Regions from separate parts of the Homo sapiens genome. Here region 2 is linked to region 1. The links come from fine-mapping of genetic effects on gene expression. A gene starts in region 1. The other region holds a variant in brackets. All regions are shown on one strand. Distances are between the middles of the regions. Region 1 holds the start of SLC15A4 (solute carrier family 15 member 4). Region 2 overlaps SLC15A4 (solute carrier family 15 member 4).

Region 1 (16,131 bases):
GCTACATGCAAGTACCATGAGGCACCCCACAAATATGCTTAGGCCCCAAAGAGAGACATTTGTTCAGTGAGGCCAAGTCACCACCCACACCAATTGTATCTGGTCTCCTGAGAATCAGAGATCTCAGTAAACTTGAAGCAAAGAGGAAATTATAGACTAAAGATAAAACCACATGCTATTTTTAGATTAGACAGGCTATCAATGGAATCGGAGAAATTCTGATAAGGGTGGGATTTCCAAAAGGCTCAAAAATCACTGACTTCCTGGACTCAAACAAAAGCACTGAGGTAATAACGCAACATCTAGGCTTATGGAGTTCACGAGGCTACTTCAATGGAGCCCAAGCGGTGGGAACAGGTCATTTGGGGGCAGACACACCAGAAGCCTTCTCTGCCCACCTGGATTTTTACGTCTAAATAAGATACTGTGCAAATGAACCCTGTACTAGACAGAGACATTTCTAGTGAGTTTCATTTCATAAATTTATTTTTAACAAACTTATGAGAGGCTGATACTGGATCTCATAAAAAGACTCTCTTGCTGTCTTAAAAACTTCTACTGTCTCATTCTTAAGTCACAGGTTATGAAAGAGTTAGAAAATTCTTATTCTAATAATAGATCTAGTTTCTGGATCCATAGAACAATCTGCTCTACTGAATAACACATTCTCAATGGGGCCAAAACAACCAATTACGGTTGGGCATGGTGGCTCAGGTCTGGAATCCCAGCACTTTGGGAAGCCAGGGCAGGCAGACCGCTTGGGTCTAGGAGTTTGAGAGCAGCCTGGGAACACAGACAGACCCCCATCTCTACAAAAAATTACAAACATCAGCCAGGTGCGGTGGTGTGCGCCTACAGTCCCAGCTACCTGCGAGACTGAGGTGGGAGGATCCCTTGAACTGGGGAGGAGGTGGCAGTGAGCTGTGATGGCACCACTGCACTCCTGCCTAAGCGACAGAGGCCCTGTCTCAAAAGAAAAAAAAAGATATGGTATGTAATAAGCACATGCATCTTTTTAGCAGTCATATATTTGATATGGTATTTTAAACTCTATTTTTTAAAGATTAAATCAGAGGAGTAAAATTTATAGTTAAAATTGTGTGTTCCTCTCTAAAGGAAATAGAGCAAAAGAAAAAAAATTGTGTGCTCCTCAAAAAGAGATTTGTTTGAAGTCCAAATGATTAAGCATGGCCACTATGGTGGCAGGTAATTAATTATATATAGTAACACCACTTCAAACGAAAAATCTAAATTTAAAAGAAAATCACTTATTCTCAAGAGTTTAAACTTTTCTCTTATCTATTACAATACTGAACAGAGGTCCTAGACCAAATGCAGACATCTCTACTGAATAAAGAGTTTGAGGTGAGAACTTCACAGACATCTAAGACACTTCTTCACTAGGACACAATGCATTTAAATATTGCTCAACAGTGGACACCAATTCTCATGCTATACTAGACATGGACCAGGAAGAAAAATGAAAAATGTGAGCAGAGAAATGGTTACTGAGAAAACAAAACTAGAAGTGCGAAAAAATAACAAACAAAAAGTAATTTTTTGACAAGCATAAAAGAGGCCAGTAAACATAGTATATAAACTTAATAGAGGCACAAATGATTTCCTAACTGAAATGTACTCGGACCTTCCCATTACCCACAGTGACACTGCACACACCTTCCCACGGTCTCACTCGGGCCTTCCCGTTACCCACAGTGACACTGCACATATCTTCCCACAGTCTCAGACTTATGTCCTCTTCAGATGAAGCATGAAAATATCAGCATTTGATTACTCTGGGAAAATCCTAACCTTAAAATGCCATTCATCCTCATTTCCTGTGTAATTGTGGTGGTCAATTTATTCCAACTCCAAGAGTAATCCATCAAAATTACTTTATAAGCCAAAATTACTAAGCCCTAAATAACCACACAGCAGGCATTTCTGTACCAAGGGAACCTGGCTGCTGTGAAGGGACATCACATGCTTCCCAGCCCCTGGCGAGCAGGCCACAACCTCCTGCCCATCGTTTGCATGACATCACTGTGTGAGCTGCAGCTACGTGCCCTACCAAGGGTAAACAAGGTTTTCACATGACTGGCCAAAAGATACCACCAAAATCAATTTGGAGAAGAAAAGCTAAAAGAATAGAATTGTGTACAGCATACCAAACAGTTGGCTGACAGAAGAATTCCTTAAAATGGGGTGTCAGTTTTTCCTCTAGAAAAAAAAAAAATGCATCATTTGCTCTTTTCATCTGTAACATAAGATTTTCGTCTTTCAGGTCACTATTTCAAATAATCCATCCACCAAGAACGATTGTGACCTTTGAAAAAGGTGAAACACTGGGGGAAGATACGGCCTGACATGATTTACACGAACATACGTCTCCCTTGGACTCACAGCTCACACATCCTCTTTCAGAAGCCAACTAGGCCTCCTTCTCAAAGCTATGCAGCCTCACCCCATTGTCTCTCCTATCAGAATGTTTCCCAGAGGCTCTACCTGGGAGATGAAGAGGTAAGTGACAAAGAACCATAAAAAGCACCTTAAAAATACAAACAGGTTTCCTCTAAATGAAAAGGACCAAACCAGGACAAATTAACCCTCGCCTGGGGCACAACAGAGTGTACTTCAGGCCTGCACACCTCAGGGTCCCCAGCCAGGCCTCCTGCCATGAAGCAGCCGCACCTGGAGGGGGACCTGCCACCTGGTCACGGGCAAGCACCCTGGCATAAGGGTACTTTTCCCTTCAAATGTTTTTTCACTATGATTCACATACCATAAAATTCACCCTTCAAAAGTGTACAATTCAGTAGTGTCTAGTATATTCAGAGATGTACAGCCATCACTGCCATCCAAGTCCACATTCTCATCACACCAACAGGAACTCCTGTTCCCTTTAAGTCAGTCCCACGCCCCTCTCCTGGCCCGTGGCAACCCTTAATCTACTTCCAGTCTCTGTGGACTCGCCTCTTCCGGGCATTCCACATCAATGGAATCACACAACTGGGGCCTTATGTGTCTGGCTTCCTTCATGCAGCCGAATGTTTTCAAGGCTCATCAGTACTTCATTTCTTTTTTAATGGCTGAAAAATATGCCATTGTATGGATATACTATATTTAGTTTATACATTCATCAGTGAACATTTTCTTATCTTTCATTTAAAAAAATTCCAAATGTATAGAAAAGTTGAATTGCAAAATGCACACCTCTCTACCCTTCACTTGGAGCCTCAGCACTTTTTTCTATACATAAAAAATACTGGCCGAGCGCGGTGGCTCACGCCTGTAATCCCAGAACTTTGGGAGGCCGAGGCAGGTGGATCACCTGAGGTCAGGAGTTCGAGACCAACCTGGCCAACATGGTGAAACCCCGTCTCTATTAAAAATACAAAAATTAGCCAGGCGTGGTGGCTCACACCTGTAGTCCCAGCTACTCAGGAGGCTGAGGCAGGAAAATAGCTTGAACCAGGAGGCAGAGGTTGCAGTGAGCTGAGATCATACCGCTGCACCCCAGCCTGGACAAGAGAATAAGACTTGGTCTTAAAAAAAAATACTTCTGGGTGATCTACATACAAATAAGCTCCAGCAACCAATTTCACCCCCAAAATTTCATCATGAATCTCCTGGAAATAAGGACATTCTTTTAACGGCAGTGAAATTACCACACCTAAGAAAGGCAACATTGGTCCATTATTAGCTAATAGGCGGTCTACAAACTATCCCAAGCATCCAAGAAGAACGGCCATGAAAGCAGCTGGGATCCAATCACTCAGCACGCGCTGCAGGGGGCGGCCAGGTCTCCCGAGTAGCCTTTCATCCACAAGGTCCTCTTTTAACATGACAGCATTACGTCGGAAGAGATCAGGCCAGCTATCTTTCGGAAGAAGGCACATCTCCTTTCAACATCCACATTTAATTATGGATGAAAGAGCGCATATTCTGTCAGATTCATCTGAGATAACCGAGCACCATTTCCTCCTCATTTTAAGAAGTATCAATTACTCGCCTGTTATATCCTGGAGAGCACCAGCTTTTAAGTCAGGCTGCCAGGGCCCCAAACCAGCTCCCCTAGGCACCTGCTGTGCAGCCTTGGGAGCTAACCCTCTAGGCCTCTGTTCCCTGGACAACAGGCTTAACTGCAGCACACACACCAGCAACTGTGGCGAGGCTTAAATAAGATCACGTGGGAAAGGCACAAGTAAGAGGCATAATAGAAGCTTTCCAGTACACCTGTGTGGGGTGGCCAAGTCTTTAAAAGATAGAGGCTGACTGTGCTACCAGCCCCGTTCCTTCATGAGCCAATGGCACCCCAAGGCCAAGAGCCTGGGCCTTGAGATCCAGCCCTGCAGAACCATTACGGAACGCACGCACACTGGGCCCATCTTAGTGTGGTAGCTAAAAAAGAACCAGAGCTGGGATAGAAGTCCAGCTTGACCACTCACTACCTACAGGCAGTAAGAAAGTGATCTGTTTTTGTGCCTGTTTCCTCATCAGTAAAGTGGATCTAAGACTCCTGTGAGGTTCAGATTTCGTCACATATGTAAAGCATACGCCACTGTACAAAAAACCCAGTTCCAATTCAGTACATTAGAAACTATCATTTCTAACGTCATTCTAAGGTGTCTCCTGACTGTAACGGATAGCCTTACACAGGCAGAGTGAAAGCTCACATTCAAAGGACAGGCTTTTGAATCCTGGCTCAGTCACATACAAGCTGTGTAACTTTGGGCCAATGATTAAACCTCTCAAGCCTCAGTTTCCTCATCAGTAAAATGGGCACCGTACGTGTCATGTAGACTAAGTAGTCGTGTAGACATGTAGACATGTAGCATACGTGTCATGTGGACTAACCAGATACTGTACTTAGGTACTTAGCAAGCACTGTGCCTGGTGCACAGTAAGCTCTCAGTAAATGTTCCTAAAAAACAGGCACTCACAGATACTTAGGCAAAAGCCTAAGAGTCGCCTTCCCTACTGCTCACATGCCATGGTTTCCATATCTGACCCTCCAAACCTCATGAAGAAATGTGATCCCCAGTGCTTCTCGTGGGGCCTAGTGTTTGGGTCATGGGGACGGATCCCTGAAGAAAGGCTTGGGGCTGTCACAGGAGTGAACTCTCCTATGAGAGAGGTCGTTTACAAGCCTGGCACCTCCCTCCCCTCTCTCACTTCCTCTAGTGCATGTGATCTCTACACAGCTGGCTCCCATTCACAAGGCCCTCAGCAGTGCAGATGCTGGCGCCCTGCTTCTTGTACAGCCTGCAGAACCCTAAACCAAAGAAACATCTTTCCATTATAGATGACTGAGCCTCAGGTATTCCTACATAGGAACACAAACAGGGAGACAACCTGCCAGTACTTCCTGCCCATTCTACTTCCATAGCTGAACTCCATCCATCCACTTCACCCACCTCCACTGCCTCCACTCTAGTTAGGAGAGACTCCCACCTCATGTCCCTAATGTCACCACTTCCTACACAACCCATTCTCTACAAGCATCCGCACACTTCTGTGAAGGGGCAGGCAGTTCACATTTTGAGTTCTATGAGACATCTCGTCTCCATCACAGTTACTCAATTCTGCCACTGCTTAGTGAAAGCAGCCCCAGTGTAGTGGCTGTGTTGCAGAAACAGGTGGGGCTATGTTCCAATAACGCTTTATTTATGGAGATTGAAATTTGATTTTCATAAAATTTTCACTGGTCACAAATGATCCCGTTTCCGACCACTTAAAAATGTAAGAACTAGCTGGGCGCCGTGGCTCATGCCTGTAACCCCAGCACTTTGGGAGGCCGAGGCAGGCAGATCACAAGGTCAAGAGATCAAGACCATCCTGGCCAACACGGTGAAACCCCGTCTCTACTAGAAATACAAAAGTTAGCTGGGCACAGTGGCGTGCACGTGTAGTCTCAACTACTCAGGAGGCCGAGGCAGGAGAATCGCTTGAACTCAGGAGGTGAAGGTTGCAGTGAGCTGAGATCGCGCCACTGCACTCCAACCTGGCAACAGAGCGAGACTCCGCCTCAAAAAAAAAAAAAAAAAAGAAAGAAAGAAAATATTAAGAACCATTCTTAGCTTGTGAATCCTCAGAAAATAAGAAGCAGACCTGACCTGCTACCCCAGCTGTAGTGCCTGCTCTGCACAAATCACTCCCTGCTGGAACCCAGTAAAGCTCTCGACTGTATCCCCAACGCTTTAACACTCCTCACATGATCCGGCCCCAGCCTTCCACCTCACTTCCCACTTTTTTTTATATTTTCTGAAACGATCTGACTTTGCTATTGCTCTTAAAGGCGGCCTATTCTGCATATAATACTTGGTGGCCACGTCCTTGCCCCTCCTGAAGAGCTGCAGTGGTTCCTCCCTCACTTCTTGGCAGTTACAGTTGCAGGGGAGCAGCTTGATGCTAACTTGATTCAAACTCATTTTCATCTGAGCTTTCCGACCCAACCTAGCCCGTAACTCCTTTAAAGCCACGAAGACGCAATATGAGTGTTTTCCCACTTCTTTGTAAAGGAAGCTAAGGCAACAACGGGGGCTTCCCCTTCCCTCAGCTTCCTGGCCCAGGGCCCTGCACCTGCGAATCCCCATGTCTGGAAAGCTCCTCAAACAACTGCTCTTTCCTAGCCTTCTGGTCTGAACTTACAGGGCCTGAACATAGAAGGGTCCCGTTCATTTATTTTTTATTTATTTATTTATTTTTATTTGGAGACAGAGTCTCGCTCTGTCGCTCAGGCTGGAGGAGTGGAGTGGCGCGATCTCGGCTCATCGCACCTCTGCCTCCCGGGTGCAAGCGATTCTCCTGCCTCAGCCTCCCGACTAGCTGAGAGAACAGGTGCCCGCCACCACGCTCGGCTAATTTTTGTATTTTTAGCCAGGCTGGTCAGGCTGGTCTCGAACTCCTGACCTTAGGTGATCCACCCACCTCGGCCTCCCAAAGTGTTGGGATTACAGGCGTGAGCCACTGCGCTCAGCGTATTTTTTAAATTTTATTTATTTATTTTTTTGAGGTGGGGTCTCACTCTGTTACCCAAGCTAGAGTGCACTGGTGTGACCCTAGCTCACTGCAGCCTCCGAAACTCGTAGGCTCAAGGAATCCTCCTTTCTCTGCTAGGACTACAGGTGTGCGCCTCCACGGAGGGCAAATTTTTAAATTTTGGTAGAGATGAGGTCTCACTGTGTTGCCCAACCTGGTCTCAAAGTCCTGGGCTCAAGAGATCCTCCCGCCTCGGCCTCCCAAAGTGCTGGAATTACAGGCGTGAGCCACCGCGCCCGGCCTCTCTTTTCTTTAAAGCCACTGTGGCCATCACTGTGTGTGTAGACCTCACCCCGCCCCAGGCAAACCCCTTCCAGCACCCATCACACCGGTACCTCCAGTCTTGGCCCACCTGCTGGCGGGATTCCTCGGCACTAGACAGAAGCCCCCCGGGGCAAGGGGCTCCCTCCGCGGTCAGAGGCAGGGACTGGGGCAGGGGAAGAGGCTGGGGCTGGGCAGGGGCTGGACAGGGACAGGGACAGCGCGCGGGGGCGCGGCTCACCTGGTCGGCGCCGAAGGGCGTGATGTTGGCCTTGACGGTGGCCACGCCCAGGCCCACCAGCACCAGCCCCGCGAAGGTGGCCGGTGAGCAGCAGCGGGCGGCGGCGTCGGGACCAGGCGCCGTGCAGTTGAGCAGGCGCGCGGAACCGCAGAGCGCGGCTCGCGTGGCGGGCGCGGCCAGCAGCGGGAAGGCCAGCATGCCCAGCAGGTAGAGCGCCAGGCTCAGCAGGATGGCGCGCGCCCGGCCCAGCCGCGCGTCGGCCAGCCAGCCTCCGAACGGCGAGCCCAGGTAGGTGAGGCCCATGAAGAGCAGCAGCGCCTCGCTGGCCTGCGCGCCCTCCCAGCAGAACGGCGCCCCGTTCAGGAATAGCACCAGGTTGGACGTGATGCCGTAGAAAGCGGCGCGCTCCAGCAGCTCCGTCAGCAGCACGGCCCCGCACGCCGCGCGCCGGCCCGCGAACGCCCCAGCCGCCGCCGCGGCCGCCGCCGCCCGCCGCGCGCCCAGCAGCGGCGCCCGCTCGCCCGCACCGCCCCCAGAGCCCTCCATGCGACGCCGCCAGCTGCCTCGCCCCGCCGCCGGGTCACCTGTCCCAGAACCCAGGGCCGCCGCCCTTCTCGCGAGACTGCCGGGCCTGAGATGTCCCTATTGGGCGGGCTCGCCGCTGCTCAACGCCCCACTCGCCGGAACTTCCGGCCCCGCCCCGGGCACTAGGCGAGGAGGTGGCCGGTATTCTGGATCACTGCGTGTCTTGGGGAGCTTGGGATTCCGCAGCTTGGCGGCCGAGAGCCTTTGTTTGCCTTTTTGAGACAGGGTTTCCCTCTCTCGCCCAGGCTGGAGCGCAGTCATGCGGTTACGCCTCACTGCAGCCTCAGCTTCCCAGGATCAAGCGGCCCTCCCACCTCAGCCTCCCGGGTAGCTGGGACCGCAGGCGCTCGCCGCTGCCTGTGGCTAATTTTTAAACAGTTTTTTGAAATGGGGTCTCGCTTTGTTGCTCAGGTTGGTCTCGAACTCCTGGCATCAAGCGTTCCTCACGTCTCAGCCTCCCATAGTGTTGGAATTACGTGCATGAGCCACTGCAGGCAGTCGGACTAAGGGAGTTTAAACAAAGAAGCCGGAGCCTGGCCCTCTTCGGGCTTCGGTGGGGCCCAGTAGGCAGCCAAAACTCACACTGAGACGGCGGCTGCTCTCCAGGCGGGTTTGCTCAGGCTGCCCCCGTGCTCCCTGCCCTGGGCTTCAGTCCTGGAGAGGACCCGGTTTCTCAACCCGTGCATCGTTGGCACTTTGAGCGACGGGACTGTCCTGTGCGTTGCACGATGTTCAGCAGCAGCTTTGGCCTCTGCTATCCACTAGGGGCCAGTTCCACCCCCTAGCACCTCAGGTTAACAACCGAAAATGTCTTCTAGACTTTGCCGAAGGACTCCTGGGGGCAAATACGCCCCCATTGAGACTCACTGGCTTAGAACAAGGCAAGCTCCAGCCTGTTTCAGGCTTTCCCAGAGACTGCCCCTACACCATCTATGGTTGCATGGCTGGCTTCTCATCCTTCAACCTTCCACCGAAGTGTTGACTTCAGAGAAACATTTTTTTCACTAGCCTGTCCAAGGCCCGAGTATCCCATTCCATCATGTTACTCTTTTCTCCTTATTACCTGTTACATTTTTTAATTTATTCGTTTATCTCCCCAACCTGCATGTGTTAACAGGTGTAAGCTTCCTGATGGCAGGATTCTCTTGTGTTTTGTTCCTCACTGTGCCCCCTGCCTCTGGGACAGCGCCTGGCACATAGTGGAGTGAAAGAGTGCCGCCCAAAAATGGCCCTCAGCATGGCTTCAGAAATTGAGACCCCGGCCTGGGATGGTGGCTCACGTCTACAATCCCAGCACTTTGGGAGGCCGAGGCGGACGGATCACGAGGTCAAGAGATCGATACCATCCTGGCCAACATGGTGAAACCCCGTCTCTACTAAAAATACAAAAATTAGCTGGGCGTGGTGGCAGGCGCCTGTAGTCCCAGCTACTCAGGAGGCTGAGGCAGGAGAATCGCTTGAACCAGGGAGGCAGAGGTTGCAGTGAGCCGAGATTGTGCCACTGCATTCCGGCCTGGTGACAGAGTGAGACTTCGTCTCAAAAAAAAAAAAAAAGACAAAAAAAAAAGAAATTGAGACCCCGGCCTGGGATGATGGCTCACGCCTATAATCTCAGCACTTTGGGAGGCTGAGGCAAGAGGATTGCTTGAGCCCGGGAGGTAGAGGCTGCATTCAGCAGTGAGGGCATCACTGCACTCCAGCCTGGGTGACATAGTGAGACCCTGTCTCAAAAAAAAAAAAAAAAAAAGGCAAGAAAGAAAGGAATCGTGATCCACAGCTGCTGCAATGATTCAATTAGTGTAAGACCACCTCCTCTTCCTTCATCATTCCCTCCAGCTAAGATGAGGGTGGAGCCAGTAGCTGGGAAGTTGGCTTGCCAGTAGGTCATCTGGAGAAGTAATCCTGCCAGTAAGTCTTGAAGTTGCATGCATTCTCTTTTTAAAAAACTTTTTTAAATGTCCGACAGATAGACTGATGGTCAGCACAGTGCTGCCACACAGCAGGCAATATATATTTAATCAATGTCTAAGGAGAGAATAATTGAATGCCCGAATTGGACCTTTGCCACCTGTCTGTTGATGCTTGTCATTTCCAGCTGTCAGCTCAAATATCACTTTCCTAACCCTGCCACACTAGGTTAGCTCCCCGTTTTTATGGCCTTGGAACTCCCTATACTTTTTTCCCACAGCACCGGTTATAATTTATACTTATTTTGTGCAACTATTGAATGCCTGTCTTCAAAGCTGGGATGGCCGGGATCTTTGTTTTAACCACGATTGTAGTTCTAGAGGCTGGCACAGCACTTGCCAATGATAAATAGGTATTAGATTGAACTGGATGAGTGAATGACTGACCATTTGTTGAATGTAAATGATGCAAGTCACCTTATGTTCTCATATATGTGTGTGTATACACATATGTATATCTGTGTGTATATATGTATATATGTGTGTATATAAGTGTGTGTATATGTGTGCATGTATACATGTGTATATATATGTGTCTATACATGTTCAAGGGCATATATTAGTATTTTAACTTATTATTGGATACTAATATATGTCCTTGAACATGTACATATAGACACACACACACACATATGTGCCATTTTTTTTTTTTCTTTTTGAGATGGAGTTTCGCTCTTGTAACCCAGGCTGGAGTGCAGTGGCACAGTGGCTCATGCCTGTAATCTCAGCACTTTGGGAGGCCAAGGCAGGCAGATCACTTGAAGTCAGGAGTTAAAGACCAGCCGGGCCAACATGGTGAAACCCCATCTCTACTAAAATTACAAAAATTAGCCAGGCGGTAGTGTTGCGCACCTGTAATCCCAGCTACTCAAGAGGCTCAGGCAGGAGAATCGCTTGAGCCTGGGAGGTGGAGTTGCAGTGAGCCGAGATCACGCCACTGCACTCCAGCCTGGGTGATAGAGCGAAACTGTCTCAAAATAAAAAATAAAAAAGAAAGCAATAGAACTCAGACTTCAATGAAAGGCTTATATCTAATTATGAGTCCAGTGCTGCTTCCACTTTGCAGTTGGTAGAGGAGACAGAATCTTTGAGTATTTTTTCTAAGACTGATAGGTTTGACGCTCAGGCAAAGTCTAGAGTAAAATTAACATTAAACATGGAATGAAAGCAAAGCAAATGATTTGAATCATGTGATAACCCAGTGTCCAAACAGTGCTCAATACACTCTGCCATTTTTGAATGATAGTAAACTAATCCGATTGCATTGCCTCATTTGAGAAAACTAAAGCTAAGTTTAAAAAAACAAAAAAGTGAGCCAAGACCACATCTGGCAAGATCACATTTATATGCAATGGCCAGAATAGGCAATAGGCAAATCCATACAGACAATGCAGATTAGTACAGTTTCCTGATACTGGGGGAGGGGAGGGGAAGATTGGTGCACATCTCTGTGAATGTACTAAAAAACCACTGAATTCTACAGTTTATATAAGTGAATTATATGGTATGCGAATATGTCTCCATAAAGCTGGTACCAAAAGAAAGTGAACTAATAGTTACAGTTTGAAAGGTTTCACATATAAATTTGGATGCCTTGCTATTTGGGGAAAATAAATGTGAGCTCTGGCAATGCTGGACTTGTGATTACCTGTTACATTAGTATGATCCCATCACTTTGAACCATGCCCCATAGTATTCAAGCCTTTATGTATTCCTCAGAGATCACACCACAGGGCCTGTCCTGTGACCTGTTTTGACCAAGAGAATACATCAAAAGTGTCTCTGGGCCTGGTCTGGGCACAGGCTTAAAGTCTGACACCTTCCACTTTCATGACTGGGGTGTCCGGAGCCATCATATTAGACGTCCACCTGCCTTCCATCATATGTTGAGGAGGAGTCTGCAACTATGTGGAGAGGGGATTCTCAGCATTCCAGATGACCTGCCTACTGAATGCAGCCATGTGAAGACCAGCAGAAGAACCACACAGCTGAGCCTCAACCCAGATAGCAGAATTGTAAACAAATAACATGGTTGTTCTTTTAAGCCACTAAATTCTGGGGCAGTTTATTATGTAGCAACAGGTAATGGAAACACATTTGCTTCCCCCTGTAGCCACAATCTGCTGACACTCAGCAGCAGCCACTGTCTTTAGATGGCAGACACTTTCTAGCTTTCCTAAACCCTCCCCACTCACTATTGTCTTATTTTTGTTATCATAGAGAAAATTCTCCATATCTGCATAGTCCAGCGCAGGAGCCACTAGCTATGTGTGGCTATTGAAACTAGTTAAAATTAAATAAAATGAAAAATTCTGTTCCTCAGTTACACTAGCCATATTGCAAGTGGTTTGTGGCTAGTGGCTACCGTATTGGACAGCATAGTCTATTTCACACCATCATTGCAGTAACTTCTATCAGCAACCCCATTCTTTTTTTTTTTTTTTTTTTTTTTGAGACGGAGTCTTGCTCTGTTGCCCAGGCTAAAGTGCGATAGTGCCATCTCGGCTCACCATTACCTCCACCTCCCAGGTTCAAGTGCTTCTCCCGCCTCAGCCCCCCAAGTAGCTGGGATTACAGGCATCTGCCATCATACCCAGCTAATTTTTATATTTTTTATAGAGGTGGGGTTTTACCATGTTGGCCAGGCTGGTGTTGAACTCCTGAAGTCAGGTGATCTGCCTGCCTTGGCTTCCCAAAGTGCTGGGATTACAGGCTAGAGCCACCACGCCCGGCCAGCAACTCCATTCCGTACTAAAATGTAATGGATATGATTGACTAATTAGCCAACATCCATACTCTTTCTTTTTCCAAACAATCCTGATTCTCTTCACATATTTGTCTTCCTTAACCCACCCCTGTCCCCACCAGCTTCCCATGTAGCTCAGGAGAACCTGACTTCATCCTTGTTCCCAGATAGAACTAGCCCACACCAGTACTAGTCTCATGCCTCTTCATGGTGACCAGTTCAGGAACGCAGACTCTAACCTTTCAGGACACGAAATTTCCCTGGTGCCTGCGGTTACTGACCCAGCAGTGGACAAATGAGGTAAGTTGACCCAGTCAGACTAGAGGCAAGGCCACTTATTGGCTGACTGTGGGCGAGGCACATGCTCCCAAACTGGATGTGAGTTAGGAAACCTGCAGCTCTAATAGCTCCTGATGGCTATTGACAACCATGAGATGAACCAGCTTAGGATGAGACTGACTTGGGGGATGGCACAGGAGACTCAGGGAGAAGTGAGATAATAAGTCTTAACATTGTTTAAGCCACTGTGTTGGGTTTTCTGTTATTTGTATTACTTGTGGCCCCAAGCCACCTATCATAATTCTATCAAAAATGGAAAAAATAAAAGAACTGGAAGGCTAGGGCAGGAGAATTGCTTGAACCCAGGAGGCAGAGGTTGCAGAGAGCCGAGATCGCACCACTGCATTCAGCATGGGCGACAGGGTGAGACTCCGTCTCAAAAAATAAAAAATAAAAAAATTAAGGAACAAGAGAGGCCAGCCTGATTTTTTTCTCATGCCTGACCCATGAGTTTTCTGCTGGGCTTCTGTAATGATTGGGTTTGCAGCCCCTGTACTGAGCCCCCAGTGATGGTATAGCTAAAGAATTGATGTAAGGTGATTCCTCCCACTTTATTGGATATGCTCGCAATATACTTCTGCCCCAAAAAGTGATCCTATGAGTCTCTCCTTTGCAGCTAAAATTAATAAATGACCCAACCCATACAGTAGGCATCTAAGGGATAGGTAACCGTGTCTTCCAAAATAACATTTTTGTCTATTGGCTCTTCACCTCAAGGGCCCTCTAGAAAAGGGGCAAGGACACTCTTTGCAAAGGTGCCTGTGGTGTGGACTAGACTTGGAAACACAGGGTTCTCCCTTCTCTGGTACCACTTTGTCTCCTGAGCCTCACCCAGTGCAGAGCTCGAGTGGGTGTGATTTAAGGCAGTGAACTGAGAAACCGTCACAGACAGGACATTCAGGGGACTGCCTGACTCCTCTGGCTGTTTCATGACATTTCTGCCGTAGTTTCACATCTCTGTTGAGTTGCTCACTCCTCACCGCCAGACAGTTGCCTCTCCTTACTGACAGTTTCAGCTTCCTCAAAACTTCGGGTTAGAAGCAGCTGTCATAGCCTTTCTGTGCCATCTGTACATCACTAACTCACTCAACAAACAACTGTTGAACACCTGCCCCCTGAGTCATGACAGCTCAGCCTCAGCTCAGCTCAGCCTCAGCACTCACGGCCAGTGCTTCAGCTTCTCCAATTTCCCAGATCCCTAGGGAGGGACTCGGATAGGCCCCCTCACCTTTGTGCATCAGGCCATAGCATAAGTCATTAGCCATAGTACAGCCACAGGCCATGCCACACATCTTTTGAATCTCCTTGGGTACAGAGAGTTGCCATAAATTCTATTTACTTCAAGGAGTCACTGTTGCAACCACTCTTTCTGGCTACAAATACTCTTGATAGAAGCAGAAGGTATAAAAAGTGAAATCAATAAAAACACAGGCAACCAACGGAATAGAATCAGGTGTTAAATCCTTGATCCTAAACCAAAGCCACACTAATCTACTTTTAGTATGAACTAATTCAGCTCCCAGAATGACTTGCATTTATTTTAACAGAGGATGTGAGAGTGTACGGTCAGGAAGCTGATTTTGATTTGACTTGTTTCAGGCACTCATTTTATTTGACCCTTGCGAGTAGCAACGTCTGTTTCTTGCGTACTTTTCCACCTGTGTTTAAAAAACCCCCAAGACGTGCAAAAGTTGGGCTTCGCCAATAGAAGCAGGGAGGTGAAGAGAGAGAGAGAGAGTAAGTGAAAGAAAATGAACTTCTGCTTCCTTCTATTGCAAGAAGCGCAAGATGGTGTGACCACACCTAAGATCCTATTTTAACCACCACTTTCACAATTCCTTGTAAGCAACCTTAGCCTAAACTGTAATCATATAATAGTTCGTTGGTAATTATAAGTGTATTTGTTTTCTAGATTAGGCCTTACAGGAAAGATCAAGGAAGATGAATACAAAGAACAAGAACAGAAGCACTAATACAAAATAACTGATTGTATGAAGTGAAATCAGCCAGGCACAGAGAGATACATACCATGTGCTCTCACTCATATATAGAAGCTAAAAAAGTTGATCTCATAGAAGTACATGTTTCAAAATCCTACCTTATGCCCCATAATTATGAACAATTATTATATCAATTAAAAATAATGAGGCCAGGCGTGGTGGCTCACGTCTGTAATCCCAGCACTTTGGGAGACCAAGGCCAGTAGATCACCTGAGGTCAGGAGTTTACGACCAGCCTGGACAACGTGGTGAAACCCTGTCTCTACTAAAAATATAAAAAATTAGCCAGGCGTGGTGGCGGGTGCCTGTAATCCCAGCTACTCCGGAGGCTGAGGCAGGAGAATCTCTTGAACCCGGGAGGCCAAGGTTGCAGTAAGCCGTCATTGCACTATTGCACCCCAGTCTGGGCAACAAGAGTGCAACTCAGTCTCAAAAATAATAATAATAATAATGAAAGGCTGCCTGGTATGGTGGCTCATGCCTATAATCCCAGCACTTTGGAAGGCCAAGCTGGGCAGATCACTTGAGGTCAGGAGTTCCAGACCAGCCTGACCAAAGTGGTGAAAGCCTGTCTCTATGAAAAATACAAAACTCAGCCGGGCATGGTGGCAGGTGCTTGTAATCCCAGCTACTGAGTAGGCTGAGGCCGGAGAAATGCTTGAACCTGTGGAGGTTGCAGTGAGCTGAGATTGTGCCACTGCACTACAGCCTGGGCAAGAGAGCAAGACTCCATCTCAAATAAATAAATAAATAATAATAATAAAAGCAAAAAAGAAAAATCTCAGTGTATGATAATAAAGGGATCTGGTCGGGTGCAGTGGCTCATGCCTGTAATCCCAACACTTTGGGAGGCCGAGGCAGGCAGATCACCTGAGGTCAGGAATTTGAGACCAGCTTGGCCAACATGGTGAAACCCAACCTCTGCTAAAAATACAAAAATTAGCCTGGCAT
Region 2 (16,131 bases), 29 kb before region 1:
TGCTGGGCAGGAGTGGTCCTGGGCACCAGCCCTCAAGGGTCCACCTGCTCACGAGGCAAGTTGTGCCCATCCCACGCACACTCACTCCCTCGTCCCATCTCACGGCGTCTTCCCGCCTACTGTAGGTTTCTGTGTAGAAGGCCATGCCCCTCCAGAAAGGACTCTCGGTCCAAATCCTGTGGCCCATCCCTGAGTGACAGCTCCGAGTGCCTCTTTCCCATTTCCCTGATGGATGTGAAATTGCAGTGTGAGCATGAAAAGCAGCTCTCCAGAAGAGCTTCTGCCCGGCGGAGATGGGATTCCAGTTTGAGTGGCGTAATGAAGTGCTCCTTCATCAGCCTTAACACGCAGAGCACAGGTTTAACTTCTGGTGGGTATAAATGGGCTATTGCGGTTTTTCTGACTTCAGGAACATACGACTTTTGTGTTCAGGATGTAGAAAAATTAAAGTCCTAGACCAAAAAATGAAAAGGAAATAAGGTGGCCCGCTGGGGCTTGTTTTCTCTGCTCGGGGAGTTTGGATGACTTCAGAGCGGGGAGGGCTCTTTTCTTAATTCAGTTCTCTAAAGTTGGTAATTTTGTTCATGTCCGTATCTGTACCCATGAAGTAAATTTGTGCAGTAATATAAAGAATAAAATTTCATGTCTAGATCTGTAGGAAAGAAGTTTAATTTTATAAGCTATTAGCACTGCCGGTCCTGGAGGGAGCAGTTTTAGCATTCTTACCAGCTTTGTGAGGAAGGCATTGTTGATTGACGATGAGCTTCTCCTGTGACAACATGCCAGGGCTTCACGCAGGTGGCTTCAACACCCTGGAATTTGGCTGCCAGGCAGCAAAGTTTGGTTTCTGTGCCACTGGAGCAGGCAGGATGACAGCCCCTAAGGAGGTCCCAATTCCCTTCCTCCAAGGACACCAGTCACATTGGATTTAGGCCCCACATGAATCCAGTGTGGCCCCATCTTAACTTGATTCCATCTGCAAAGACACTTTGTCCAAATGAGGTCACAGGTTCTGGATGGACATGAAGGCTGGGGCTATTATTAGTCAGCCCAGTACAGCAGCCATCTACTTCTCTGATGCTGAGAGGTGGCTATGTCACAGGAGGGCTGGCTCCCATGGCCTCGAACATTCATGCTGGGTTGGGCCTGCCTGGCCCTAAGTCCTGCAGAGCCGTGTGGATGCATGGCTTTTTCCACTCCCTCTTTTTCTCCTCCAAGTTCACAGCCCCCTCTGTTTACCCCTTAGGCTTTGCTAACAGTGAGGACCTGGAGGCTTCTTTCTCCCTGAATGGCATCCTCTTGCCAGGCTCAGGATCCTGCTGTGTGTAAGGGCCAGTAAAAGCATCTGCACCATTTACACCTCACTTTTGACTCACTAAATCCAAACCCCAGCCTTCACCAAACACAGAGAGCTAGGTCAGGAATCCAGCCCTTTCCCACAAAAATAATAGTCACATGGCTGGGTGTGGTGGCTCTCGCCTCTAATCCCAGCACTTGGGGAGGCCGAGGCGAGTGGATCACTTGAGGTCAGGAGTTCGAGACCAGCCTGGCCAACGTGGTGAAACCCCATCTCTACTAAATTCCTGACCAGGTGCAGTGGCTCATGCCTGTATTCCCAGTGTTTTGGGAGGGTGAGGCGGGAGTATCACTTGAGGCCAGGAATTTGAACCAGCCTGGGCAACATAGTGAGACCGTGACTCTACAAAATATAAAATAAAAAAGTAATTGGGTGTAATGTGTGTCTGTAGTCCCAGCTACTCTGGAGGCTGATGTGGGAAGATTGCTTGATCCCAGGAGGTTAAGGCTGCAGCCAGCCATGATTGCACCACTGCACTCCGGCCTGGGAAACAGAGAGAGACCCTGTCTCAAAAAAAAAAAAAAAAAAAAAGCCGGGCGTGGTGGCTCATGCCTGTAATCCCAGCACACTGGGAGGCTGAGGTGGGCAGATCACCTGAGGTCGGGAGTTGAGGACCAGCCTGACCAACATGGAGAAACCCCGTCTCTACTAAAAATACAAAATTAGCTGGGGTGGTGGCGCATGCCTCTAATCCCAGCTACTCGGGAGGCTGAGGCAGGAGAATTGCTTGAACCCAGGAGGCGGAGGTTGCGGTGAGCCAAGATCTCACCATCGCACTCCAGCCTGGGCAACAAGAGCGAAACTCCGTCTCAAAAAAAAAAAAAAAAGGCCGGGTGCAGTGGCTCACACCTGTAATCCCAACACTTTGGGAGGCCGAGGTGGGCAGATCGCCTGAGGTCAGGAGTTTGAGACCAGCCTGACCAACATGATGAAACCCCATCTCTACTAAAAATACAAAAATTAGCTGAGCCTGGTGGCGGGCACTTGTAATCCCAGCTACTAGGGAGGCTGAGGCAGGAGAATAGCTTGAACCCGGGAGGCAGAGGTTGCACTGAGCCAAGATCGTGCCACTTCACTCCAGCCTGGGCGACAGAGTGAGACTCCATCTCAAAAAAAAAAAAAAGTCACTTTACTCCGATGCCAGACTTTCAGGAAGAAGCTTATTTTCACTTCTCCATTCTTAAAAGTGGAAACCTCCCTTGCCCTGCATTCCTCTTTTCTGTGAGTCCCTTGAGGGCGTCTCCTCTCTCCTCCAGCTGTCTGCAACCTGTCAGGACCCCACACAGAGCTCAGCTTGCCGGCAGGAGCCTGTGACACGTGGACCACCCCATCCTCTGGAAACACTCCCTTCACTTGGCTTCCAAGACACCTCCTTAGCCTGGGAACCTCAGGTCCCTACTCCATCAACATCCAGGCCCTCACCGAGCACCCGCAGGTGACTCCAAATGCATCCTTCCCAACCCCAATCACTGCAATCAGACGTGCAGAGCCGCTTTTGGACAGCTGTCTGGAGAAGTCCTTTAGGCTTGAAAGAAGGGATTCGTGATTGACTTGAGAGTTCCAGAAAAGGATTAATATACCAATACAGTTTTTATTTATTTATTTTTTGAGACGGAGTCTCCCTCTGTCACCTAGGTTGGAGTGCAGTGGCGCGATCTGGGTTCACTGCAATCTCCGCCTCGCAGGTTCAAGTGATTTTCCTGCCTCAGCCTCCTGAGTAGCTGGGGTTACAGGCATGCACCACCACGCCCGGCTAATTTTTTGTATTTTTAATAGAGACGGGGTTTCACCATGTTGGCCAGGCTGGTCCCAAACTCCTGACCTCCAGCAATCTGCCCTGACAGCAGCTCTGATTAAGCAACAGGGAGATGCTAGGGATGGGTAAGGGGAGTTATGCAATGGACCTGCCCAACTTCAACTCCCACCATCAAAGCCCTAGAGGTCAAGGGGCTCATCCTGCGTTTCTGGGAAATGCCGTGCTACCTGTCGGCCTCCTCAACTCCCTATGCGTTCTGTGGCTGAATTTTGATGTCACTAGAGACACAGCCCGGCACAGAGACCAGAACACAGGTTTCTGTGCCGTCCTCACCACTGGGAGGCTGTGACCAGGCCTAGTCCCTGAACGTCTGGGGGTGTCTGCTCATCTCGTCTCAAGACACGTCTCTCACGATGCATTGGTTTGGGATTCGGTCAAACAGAGAAAAAACAAGGTCCCTGGCACTGGGCTGGCTTCCTCTCCATGCAGCCCTTTGACAACCTGAGCATGCTTAGCTCATTTGGAAACCAGCAAATGCTGAGTTTTCTTGTTACTATCCAGCTTTCCATCATTCGGCTGCTTTTTCTTTCACCCTTTACATTCTGTACTTTTCATTTGCTTAATAGATTCTAGTCCAACAAATCACTTTGTAGGCATTATCTCCTTTAAAAGGCCCTATTTCCAAAAGAAGAACATGTGAGAATGAACATTTAAAAATAGTTACTCAAGTGACTTCATTGTTTGAGAATCCCCATTAACATATGTGGCCCGTGTTAATAACAGTGTGTATCACTCTGCGGCACACAGCAGTTTCACATTATTGCAGCATTCCGCTCCTGCTTAATGTGCTTTTTTTTCCAGGTGATGGGATTTTGCACCAAGTGAAATAATTGGTAATATTGAGGATCATCCATTTTTTATTACCTAGAATTCAGAAGTGATCAGGACGGGCCTGGTGTGACTCTGAGATGATGGGCTGTTGGGAAGTGTGATGTGATGTGGTACTGTGCGCTCTCCAATCCTCCGGGAAGCAGCATCTCGGCCCCTGGGGGTGGGGGGCACGAGGCCGGCCCCAGGGACCCTGTACTTGTACAGCCCGTCCGCAAATTCAGGCAGGACATGCGGTCGCAGTCTCACCCTGGGATCACTGACCACAGGCCCAGTGGGTCCCTGTCAGTCTTAAGAACTTTTTCTCCCCATCTGCCCATGACACTGTGGAGAAATGAAAAGCTCTGTCCTGCCCAGCTTCCCCGAAAAGAAAGTCTGGCTGAGCATCTTCACATGGAGCGAGAAGACGTTTGCTTCATGAGGCCAAGAAAAGCCAGTTACACACACACCGACGTCTTCAGGGCAGGCACATGTTTCATGCTTATTTATTCAATCACCGCTTCATGCTGTAGGGTGAACCTGATCAACTATCTAAATTCAGAAGAAAATGTAAAAAGTTGTCTGATAAAAAAACAGTCTTTACTCTCACAGAACACTTCTGATGCAGGATGGGAAAGTGGCTCTCCTTCCCCACGTCACACGATGCTCCGGCGGACACTGAGCATCCTATAATATCCTGGCATATGCCCTGCCACCACCCACCTGGAGGCAGCATCAGGATCCCAGGGCTGAGGGCTCAGGCCCACGAGGCTGCCCGCCCCGGCAGATGCCAGGCGCAAGTAGTGGGCTGTCACCTACGCTTCTGACCAACTACAGAGCAGGAACTCCCTCTCCAGGTTCAGCTGATTTGCCAGAGCAGCTCTGAGCTCGGGAAACGCTTTACTCACGCGTGCCCGTTTATTATCAAGGCTGTGACAAGGGCACAGAGGAACGGCAGATGGAGGTGTGCAGGGTGAGGTGTGTGGGAAGGGGACCGGGAAGCTCCCATGCCCGCTGGGTGTGCCACCCTCGGGGAACCCCCATGAGTTCAGCAACCAGGAAGTTCTCAGAACCCCAGGCCTCTGGGGTTTTATGGAGGCTTCATTACGTAGTCATGACTGATGACACACCACTGGCCACTGGTGATCGACTCCACCTTCTACCCCCACCCCCCCAACTTCCTGGAGGTGGGGGAGGGGGAGGGCTGAAAGTCCCCCCACTCCAATCACCAGACTGGTTCCCCGAGCAAGCACCCCCTCTCCTGAGGCTGTCCAGGAGCCACCACAGATGGCCTCATTAGAACAAAAGATGCTCCCATCACCCAGGAAATTACAAAGGCCTTAGCAGCTCTAGGCCAGGAGCTGGGGTCAAGGGGTCAAAGAGCAAATATGAAAATGTGGGCTTCTCCTCGTGCCCTATCTACAGGGGTTGCAGGAGTTCTGTCCCAGGGATTTAGGGCCCAGACCACATCTGTTTCTTATCTCATCACAATATCACAGGCTGGTACCCTGATGACTCTGTCAACCCTCCAACTGACTTTCTGGAGAGAATTTCCCTCGTAACATCGAGGGTGCACCTAGCTAGGAGCAGGGGCTGGCGGGACAGACGGAGCGGATGGATGTGGTTACTCACTCACCGTTCACACAGCCCGGGGCATCAAGGGCACAACGCACCGGAGGAAGGATCCGAGAGCTCTCCCGACGCCACCTGCCTTTCCCCTTTTGTGCAAAGGCCTTATGAAGAAAATCTGTTTGACACCATGGGTTATTTTTACATGTGATATATCCTGAAGACATGAGTTCTGTCTCCGGAAAGTGGTATCCTTCGTAGCACAAGGCTTTTCGAAACCTGCCCCGTTTTTTTTAACCTGGGCTCACAACTCCGGCCCCTCTGAGATCCAGTGATACCATGAGTGTCATCTGTATTCACTCTATCCTACTTCCACTGGTTGAAATGTCTTGTATTTTTCTATAGTTTTTCTATACTTTCTATTACACAACGAACAACAACGTGAGGGTTTTTTGGTTTGTTTTTTGTCTTCTCCAAATGCTGAAACTACCCTTCCATGCAGAGGAGGCTGCAGAATCAGGAGACGCGCCGGAGCATCCGAGGGCTGTGCAGGAGCGCACTTCCCCACCCTCCCCTCAGTTCCCGACTCGGGAAGCTCTGCGCCTTCTACACGACAGGGGAGGAATCCACACGCCACACCAGCAGCGACTGAGGACAAACCACGCAAAGAACCGGCTCATGGATTTCGCATTTGAGATGCTTTTTATAATAAAGTTATGCCAAAAATACAGCAACAAATACAGAAAAAGTATTAACAAACGGAGAAGCCCCAGATACACGTACAGTAACAATACAAAAATGTGACTGGTCAAACAGCTCAAGTTCACATTTAACACTTTCAATTATTTTTAATTACACTATTTCTGTTCAAAAGAATGTTTTCCTTACATACAACCATGATCAGTCTTTAGTCTCAATCGTACCAAAATAAAGCTATATATAAGCACTCTGACTAGGTAAGGTGTGAAGTACCCCGTGAGTTGCTCTGTGGCTTGAGATGGGACACATGGTCTCAAATGACTCTTATGCATGCCTTGCCTTAAGAAAGAAAAGTAATGTTGATGGTTTAAAAAGTAAGTACTTTTTGAAGCAGCAGATGAAATGTGTTTACTACCAGCCTAAATCAAAGAACATGGCAAGAGCAAGATTGTTCTCAGGAAGGAAACCATAAATATGGCATTTATGTAAAATCCTTGCAGCATCTGACCATGCTTTTATCTTTAAAAAAAAAAAAATCCTCACTTTCTTAAATATAAGTAACAGTTTATTAATTTTTTTTTTACAGTGAGATATGGCTATGGGAAGCAGGTGATACTATTTGTTTAAGAAACTGGGATGCCAACTAACACGTGGAGTTCCCCAAGACTTTGCAATCTCCATTTGTGAGTTTCTGTAAAAAAGGGAACCCAGCTAGAGGATTCACAGAGACCTTGAATGACAAGCGACATACTCGAAATCTGCAGCTCTCCTCCCGGAGGGCCCAGCGTGCCAGGAGACACGCTGCAGTAAGGCACTTACCAAGCTCCTTTGGATAGAGGGAAAGAAGAAATCAATCCAGGCAACATGCAAGTTTCAGTGAAGTCAGACATTTTATGGGAATTTAAAGTCTTGCCTGTTCTCAGTGCACCCCAGTCAGTTACTGACATGTCAGCCTCAGAAACCGCACATGGCCTCAGGAAGGTCAGGCCCTCCTGCTGGTGGGCACGCCATTGGCTCTTGATCGCTGATGGTCTCGATGATGGTCATATTTCACAGAAATAATGAGGAAAAGCAGGAGGGTAGCTCCTTGAATAGCAGCCAGAAGAAAAAAGTAATAGTTCAAATAGCAGCCGTTAATATTACCTGGAGAAAACAAAAGGAAAGCGGCAGGTAAGCTGCGCTGCTACAGGTATTTTTTCAAGACTTTACTATTTAATCTGGTTCCCACTAAGGTTTAACTGGAGTCATAAAAAAAGTAACAAATGTTGTCTCTGTAGTCCAAAATGCACAAGCATCTTGCTTTCAAAACCACTGAAGAAGCTCCCTGAAGTCAGATACATCGCCACCGGGGGCTCTGGAGGTGGGCTGTCTGCAGCCCCCCACCTGCCCCTAGCAGCCCATCCCTCTCTTCTGTAAGGTAAAAGGAGGAGGTTCCCTGAGGAAACTAGAAAAGGTAGCTCCCCAGTACTCAGGAAAATCCCTGCGTGGCCTGCAGACACACATGCGGTGGTGAAGGGGACAGTGTCGACGGAGAGTGTGCCTAAGGCCGCACGACAAGGCTGCAAATCAGGAGCAAGGGGAAACCTGCCAACCCAGCCTCCTGTGACTGCTAATCCCCCCACACCAGAACAGCTGGGCAAAGTAAAAAATTACCTTCCTGTGTTCTTGCCACCAGAAACAAGTGTTAGCCGGTCTGGTGTTATTTCCTTCCTGCCTTTTCTGAGGCAGTGTTCCTCTCCTCAACTACTTCAGGGGAACTTCCTCCATTTATAGTTATGATTGGCCTGGAACTGCATTGTTGAGGAAGGCAGATGCGAAGATAACAAAAGAGCGCCTGACTATCTCTTTATCGAATCCTGAGGTGAGCGTCTTTGTAACTTGGCTATGGAACCTGTGCACTTTTTAGCATCACAGATTGCACTATGACACAGCCTGAACATCGTGAATTCTGGATTCACTGCATGGGTCACTGACACACCCAACACACCAGGGCCGACAGCTGGGCAATGTATCAAAGGAAGAGATGAGCTGGTTTCTGAATGTGTCTTAAACATGTTCAGGTTTTAGCATCCTCAAACTGACACAAGCAGATACCTCTGCATACTTTAATACAAAGAGTTAGCATACACTGAATACCCAACCGAGTCCCGGGCACTATGGAGGCACTTTACACGCAACGTCTGCATCCCAAGCAGGCTGGACAGCACAGAGGATAAGATCATGGGCCATGCAGCTCAAGCTATAAGGCTTGAATCCGGCCTCTGAGACCTCTGTGCTCAGTTTCCTCATCTGTAAAATGGGGAAAGCGCCGAGGAGCAGCATTTCAGAAAGGCACTCAAGAGGGAG[T/C]CTGGACGCGGTGAGGGTGCTAGCAACACGTGCCACGGTCATGATCCCCCTTTCACAGAGGTCTGGAACTGTCCACTCTGCAAACTGGCAGTCTCTCCGCCAGAGAACAGAGTTCAGCCAGCACCGGCTAACATCACCACTCAATGTGCAGACGTGGGAACGACGTGTGAGCAGAAAACGGCAGGACTTTTAGCTCGTCATGACTGGTCATCCAGGCCAAGCCGAGTGTCGCCCTGTGCTCTCCACCACGGCTGCTCCTGCCACCATGGCGTCCCTCTGTCTCCGTACCATGTACATCACCTGCCACCAGCTGGAAAGCACTGCTGCACGTTTCTGCACGAGGTCGCAGGTGCGTGTGGCCGGCAACATCACGAGGGGAGCGAGTGCTCTGGAATCAAGTTGCTCCATTTTCTGCTCCTCTTCAAAAACACTTTCTCATTTGTTTATTTTAAAAAGTGAGACTTCCTTTCTTCTGAAGACCTTTTTAAAGCTGGGTTATTCTGGCACTTCCTTTTTCTATCTGAACATATACTGCATGTTCAACAGTGCATTTATCAAATAAACACAATATAATACACGTCTGGGCCAGGCGCAGTGGCTTATGACTGTAATCCCAGCACTTTGGGAGGCCAAGGTGGGTGATCAACTGAGGTCAGGAATTCAGAATCAGCCTGGCCAACACGATGAAACCCCGTCTCTACTAAAAATACAAATAATTAGCCAGGCGTGGTGGCTGGCGCCTGTAATCTCAGCTGCTTGGGAGGCTGAGGCCAGAGAATTGTCACTTGAACCCGGGAGGTGAAAGGCTGCAGTGAGCCAAGATGGTACCACTGCACTCCAGCCCGGGCAACAAACGTGAAACTCCATCTCAAAAAAAAAAAAAAAAAAAAAAAAAAAAACCCACACATCTGTATGGTGAGATCTCACACATTTTTAAAGAGTGCTCATTCACACCAATTAAAGAAGATCATTTCCTGTGTCTACTGATTTAGAAAGACAGCTGCTAATACCCTGAATTCTACCAGACTAAAGCTTTATTTTTTCAACAGATGTTTTACACTATTCGTTCAACCCTTACGACCTACCAGGCTCTGTCCTGGGCACTCAGTGGAAATGCAAACCCCAGCTTCCTGGAGCCTGGCACTAGCTGTCACTGCTGTCCCAACACTGGCATTTGACGCTACTGAGACGAGGTTGTCATCAAAATATAAACGACATCATTTTATGTGCCTATTTTGAAATACGAGTCTCCCCAAATGTACCAGTCACTGAAAACTTCCCGAGCTAAAGCTGGCAGGCCACGTGAACTGAAGGCTGAGGCCACATGAACTGAAGGCTGCGCGGCCCTGCGGGAGTGGAGGTGCGGTCCAAGCCCGCAGGCAGACACACCACGCCTCGTCAGGGTCTGTCTCAGGGTGGCATTACACAGGGTATTCGGAAACGCCTAAGTCGCCTGGGAGAAAACCTGCCGTGCATTCCTGGGCCTCTTCACAGACAGAAGGATAATTACACAGGAAGATGGCAAACACTAGGGTTTTGACATTTGACAAGACAGACTCTTGGGTCCCCAAGGAATGAGCGCACCCGCCCCCCAGGCTCACAGGCAGGGCAGGTATTCACAACAGCCCCACACTGCCAACATCTGGGCACCCACCGACAACAGCATGGATAAATGCCTCGTGACGGCTCGTACGAAGGAGCAGTACTCAGAAGTACAGGGGAGATGCTCACAGACAGAAGTGCTAAGTGAAAGGAGACAGCCACAGCCCAGCACAGGACAGGCGAGGGTAACCTGTGGGGACCAACGCTGGAATAGAACAGGTTTACCTTCTGAGGGGGGCAGTAAACTAAGGAGAGAGGCAAGGAGGGCTTCCAAAAGTTCCTCCACTGAGATCCAGACTGCAAACACAGCAAGCTGTGCTTAAGATTAGAGACCTTTACTATGGTATGCACGTTCTCCCCAGCTTAAATAACACTAATAAAAGGAGCCTGCTGGGAGGTCGGTAAGAAAAACACAATGTAACAAAACTCTGGGGACTCTCCCTTCACAGTGCTGTGACTTTACAGAAAGCTATTTCCTGTGTCGGTCACGAGATGGTGAGGTAGGGCCAGGGATAAGGGTGGCACAGACACCCCCGGAACCTGGCCTGAGAGCTGCTGCTCCTTCCAAGGCCACACAAATTCAGGGAGAACTCTCTCTGAGGAGCGGGCTTCCTGTGGATTTCCCATGTCACAGCCTTTATTTCTCTACCCAGGACGCCAAGGGCTGCTCGACAGATGAGCTCCAACTCTCCTTACTGGTGTGAACCAAGGAGGCTGCCATGCAGCCAGGGGGCACAGCCTGGGGGCTGCTGGCAAACACGCCTCCTTCATGAAACATTTCCCATTCTTGAAAACAACAGACAGATCCTGGCCCATCCCCAGCACACACGCCCTGAGAGCACCAATGCAGGGGAAGTCCACAAACAACCTGTCAGACAGAAATGATGAATGAAAGGTCAACTCTGAGATGTGAAATTAAATTAAGAATGAGGATTAAATGACTAGAAAGCAACGAGAATGACCAGCCAATCCTTTATGACACATTTAAAGATAAAACAAAAACCAAGAACCAGAATCTTCGTCTTCAGAACTATGGACTTTGGTCTTTCTTTGAAGGAAGTCTGTCCCATGTACCACAAGAGGATCTTATTCCTCGGGCTGTTCATCTTCAGGAGAAGGTGGGAATGAAACACCAGCCCCAAATCCACATGTCCTCCTCAGAGCAAGCAGCCCTGAGCTGGCCATGGAGGTGGCACCCACAGCCAGAAAACATCAGTGACAAGTGTCCATGGGACATTGGTGGCTTGGAGTTCTGGGCTTTACATTAGGACTCCACAGGCCTATACTCATGGAAGGGCTCTGGGAATTCTGCAATTTCTGCAGAAAAGTCCCTAAACGTTCACCAGATTCTCAAGGGGATTTGTAACCTAAAAGTGGCTAAGTACTACCGGACCAGAGCAAATGCCACATGATTATACAAGAAAAAGTAACAAGGTTGTTTCTGTAGATAAAATATTTTTACAAAGGAAAAGAAAGAAGAAACCTTCGCTTGCTGGGTCCATTTAAAGGCATCGTAAACCTGGAGAAAGCAAAACTCAGCTTTTATGAGTGGTTCTGTTCAACACTCAAGATGCCACCTACTGGTATTAATTGTAAAAACCCATTATGATTGATCACAAGTAATATGTTTATTTTTAAAAGTAACTTACTATCTATCTTGTCTTTTTCGTATCAGAAAAGGTGCTGTTAGGAAAAGAAAACGAAAGTACACCACCAAGTTAAAGAAAGGGAAGCTTGGGGTACAGATTCAGCTGCCTCACGAAGACTGAGCTGGACGGGCGTGGAGAAGGTGCTTGTCTGTCAAGGACGTCCCCGTAAGGAGCGGTGGCTGCAGCAGCTGCTCGCTGGGCTGTGGCCAGGGCAGGCTTGGCCCCTGGGATGAGAAGAGAGGCCTGCTTGTCTCCTGAAAACCGTTCATGATGTAAGGAAACACAGTGATGCAAGCAGCACAGAGCAGTGCTGTGGAAGGAGCGGTGGACAGGCAGCTCGGGACAGGCCATCCACGTGAAAACACCTCCGCTCACTCAGCCATCTCCTGAGTGCCTGCGCCTCCCCCTCACTGGCTATTTTCAAAAGGGACAGGATGCTGGCTCTTACCAAAGTCTGTGTGACTGCTCATCCATCCGATGGCTTTGATAGACACCAGTGCCAGCAGTCCAGAACCCACGAACGACCCGACGCCAGAGAAGAAAAAGAACAAGCCCATTATGGCACTCTGCATGGACTTGGGGGCAGCTGAGTATGCAAATTCCAGGCCTGAGGAAAGAAAAGGGAGGGTCGTTTTTGTGAAAGGGGCACTTTAACACATGGGATCAAAGCTTTCACCTAATATAGCAGAGGAAGCGTGGGGTCTCCTAGGGACTGAGTCCTGCAGACAGGCACAACCTCTTTTCTATTAGGAGGACGATGCTTACTAGCGACCAAGAATCAATGGCTATGGGCCAACTGTTCATTCTCCTAGCCATTAGGATAATTCCTAATAAATTCAATGAGCAGAAAGTTAAACTCCTTGCTCTCAAGCTTAAAGGTAATGTGATTTGTTGGCTCTTAGACTTTTGTGTTCCTTAAAGAGATTAGAGAAAAAATTTTCCTATATTGTCAAGGAATGGGAGTTTGAAAACAAAGTACACACACTAAACTGGGAAATCTACATAAGGATTCTATTTCAGAGGCAATATACTTTATCTTTTTTTTGTTGAGACGGAGTTTTGCTCTTGTTGCCCAGGCTGGAGTGCAATGGCAGGATCTTGGCTCACCGCAACTTCCGCCTCCCTGGTTCAAGCGATTCTCCTGCCTCAGCCTCCCGAGTAGCTGGGATTACAGGTGCGTGCCACCATGCCTGGCTAATTTTTTGTATTTTTAGTAGAGACAGGGATTCACCATGTTGGCCAGGCTGGTCTCGAACTCCTGACCTCAGGTGATCCACCCGCCTCGGATTCCTAAAGTGCTGGGGTTACAGGTATGAGCCACCGTGACAAGGGCAATAGACTTCAAAACTATTTTGGCAGGCCCATCTATAAATTTAGATTTTTATAACTAGACACGGAGATTTGTAGTGTATTCTAAATAGAAGTCCATTCCGTTGTGATTTATTCCCTTTACAAATTCATTAGCCAATTCTGGATGAGTTTTCTACAGTGAAAACCACCACTGACTACTACCCACACATCCATCCACCTCTGCATATCACTCATCTTCTCTTCTCTCTCACTCTCAGCAGCCGGACAGATCTGCCCAGAATACACTTGTTCAACCACTGCAGGATCTCACTAATAGGAAAAGGGAGGCCTGTGAGAACACGTTTCTAAAAATTAGATCTGCTTCTTTACGTACATCTAAACGAAGCGCACTGAGAGCTGTGAGCTCAGCCCAGCCACCACGGCAGCATGGCCGAGGGCTCCGCTGGGAACTATCCAACCACGATTGCTTTCTTCTTCTCTGTCCTGTGGCACTTACAAGGTAGTTAACAAACTTTCATGAAAATATTTTGCGATACTGTTTTTACACAAAGAATGGAGAACCTCAGCACTGGTGTGTTTACCTAGCGATTCATATTCTAAACCACACACTGCCAAAAACTACAGAAGTGCTGTGCTATCCTTGTCTCAACATATTCCAACAGCACAGTCAGAATGCCCGAGCGCTCACGCTTGTGCCTGGACTCAGACACCTCCGGCACTAAAGGTCCTCACCTGCGATACTTGCAAAGATCTCGCTGATCCCAATCAGCAAGTACTGCGGCACCTGCCACCACAGCGACAGATCGGCAGCATGGTAGACGACGTTGCCGATGGTCTGATTAATGGTTTTCTCTTTAACAAGGTTCAGCCTTTTACTCTCCAAAATTCCTAGAATTCAAAAGTAGGTTAGTGTAATATTCATTTATTAACATTTACAGTTAATCTAAAAATCTGATGTTGGCTACGAGACTTCGTAGCAAACGTGATTCTGATGCGTGAAAGGACCACGTCTAATCACAGCTTCCCCCAGGACTAATAGGCCCCCAGCCTTCAGCCTCCTAAGCAGGCTGAGTGGAGGTCATGGCATAGCACACCTATTTCACTTCGGCTTTTTACAGCATCTTATATAAAATCAGATGTTCAACATGTTTCATTTAATCCTCAAATATCTGGATTGCTCACCCATACCTCGTTTGTCTCTTACAAAGGGGAGTAGGAGAAAGTTAAAAAGTCCTACTGTAGAATTAACAGTAGTGCTATTTTACCCAACAGCAGGTAATACTGAGATGTTCTTCCAATCATAGTGATGGATCGAAGGTGATCTACTGATTTATTATTATAACAACAAATGATGATAATAATGATGATGATGATGTTGGTTTCCCTGCATAGGGTAGGCTTAATCTTTGCAACAAAGTAAGCTGACTTCACAAATCAACCTGTGCTCTCAGCAGCATTGAGATCTCACTGCAGGTGCAGGCTAAGTTACTGGTCACCTATCAAGTGTAACAGAAAGACATGAGAAAAACAAGCAAGGGCAGCAGCTCCTACTCTATAAACAAAAATCAGCCACTGGAAATAAAGTGTAAAAGCATCTATTCGCAGGTCCAAGTCCTTAGGTTAAAGATACCACCAAGTTTTATTTTATAAAGAATTCTTATTGCAAATTAGGTCACAGGCCCTAATATTTAAAGCGTATGTAAAATATGTTTATTTTAAAACATGAGTATGAAGAAAGGTCTGGTCAGAGGGCAATGGAATGAAAATATTAAAAATGTTCCTTCTAAAACCTGAGCATGAGAAAGGACCAGGATATGATCCATAGGGCGATGAGAACACAAACTCTGGAATTTCCACCTCAAATCTCAACTGAAATGCCAAGCAAAGTGAAAACATTCTCCAGGATCAAAGTAGAGAGAGACCTTCGAGCCAACCCACAGCTTACTTCCATCAGAAAACCTGCAGCCCCACCCTGGAAGAGTGTCAAGGGAAACCCAATCCTTCCACTCCGCCCTCCACGGGAGAAACATAAACGCAGACCCAGGCAAGGACAGCAAACTATTTAGAGCCCTTAGTTGTTCTGGAAAGGGCATCTGAGGGCATCTTAATCAGGCAAGGCTGGTAGTGACAATAGGGACTGTCCCCAAATGACAGCCTTCCTCCCGACAGGGCAGCTGACAGCAACCATAGCACTGCACCCCTAGCCCTGGCATCAGCGCCTTCAAACACGAAGAATGAACTGTGTGACAATGGCTTCCCCTAGACACCCAAGGTCCTCAGCTCCCACCTGCTCCCCTGGGACCATAGCTGACTACACTGGTCCCCACTCCTTGAATGGGAACAGAACCTATGCAACTCAAGCAGAAATTCAGGTCTATTTTGGAAATAAACACGAAAGCTGAATACCACTTTTCTCCTTCACAGGAGAGGAGGAGAGCCTAAGGATGACACCAAAGTGTCTGCAGGGGGCGGGACAAGGGAAGGTTACTCATGCGGAGGACAATAAGTAGATTTTATAACCTGAATGGGAAAGATACTACTATTGCTACTGGCATAGTTCTACCAGAGAACTTGTCTTATTATTCAAGAAAACACAGACTCTGAAGACTAAGGATGAAAAAGGTAACAAAGAAATTAAGGGGACGTTGGCTTAAGAGAGACACAAATGATGAGATCAAGAATTAGGAGAAGAGAAAATGAGAAAATAAATAGGCCTGATTATTGGTGAGGCTGTTGGCAGAGAGATGAGCAGCGGCAAAGGCGCACACACAGCCAACACTGCGGAAACCAGGATCGGGACGGGTGCCCCCAGTCACGAGCGAGGCGGAGAGGCAAAGCCAATGGGGAAAATGACCCTGCCTGTGAACAACTGAGAGCCCTGGAGAGGCTGGGACAGGCCGAAAAGCAGCAGGGTTCAGGCTGAGTGACAGTGACATGGCAAGCGGGCACCCAGTAAAAACAAGCATGGGATGCGA

The links.
Region 2: its variant is fine-mapped to the expression of SLC15A4 in monocytes after R848 (Quach 2016, PIP 0.95). The same link has a PIP of 0.9 or more in monocytes after Pam3CSK4.

What each region holds. Positions count from the first base shown.
Region 1 is chr12:128,815,855-128,831,985 of GRCh38, forward strand. It overlaps SLC15A4 (solute carrier family 15 member 4), which reads right to left and starts at 8,104. Exons shown (of 8, transcript NM_145648.4): 1 at 7,544-8,104. The coding sequence starts at 8,089. LOC124903083 (a long non-coding RNA gene) reads left to right here and starts at 8,090. Exons shown (of 2, transcript XR_007063602.1): 1 at 8,090-10,036; 2 at 11,815-13,592. RefSeq lists enhancers at 2,070-2,149, 2,790-2,899, 6,115-6,234, 6,295-6,374, 7,855-8,014 and 2 more.
Region 2 is chr12:128,786,966-128,803,096 of GRCh38, forward strand. SLC15A4 (solute carrier family 15 member 4) reads right to left here. Exons shown (of 8, transcript NM_145648.4): 6 at 13,889-14,044; 7 at 12,294-12,452; 8 at 6,229-7,391. The coding sequence ends at 7,231. Among named protein-coding and RNA genes, the nearest start is that of SLC15A4, 29 kb to the right of the region's middle. RefSeq lists enhancers at 4,815-4,904, 4,903-5,403, 4,955-5,114, 8,179-8,318, 10,199-11,398 and 6 more. The variant T/C (reference allele first, on the strand shown) is at 8,595.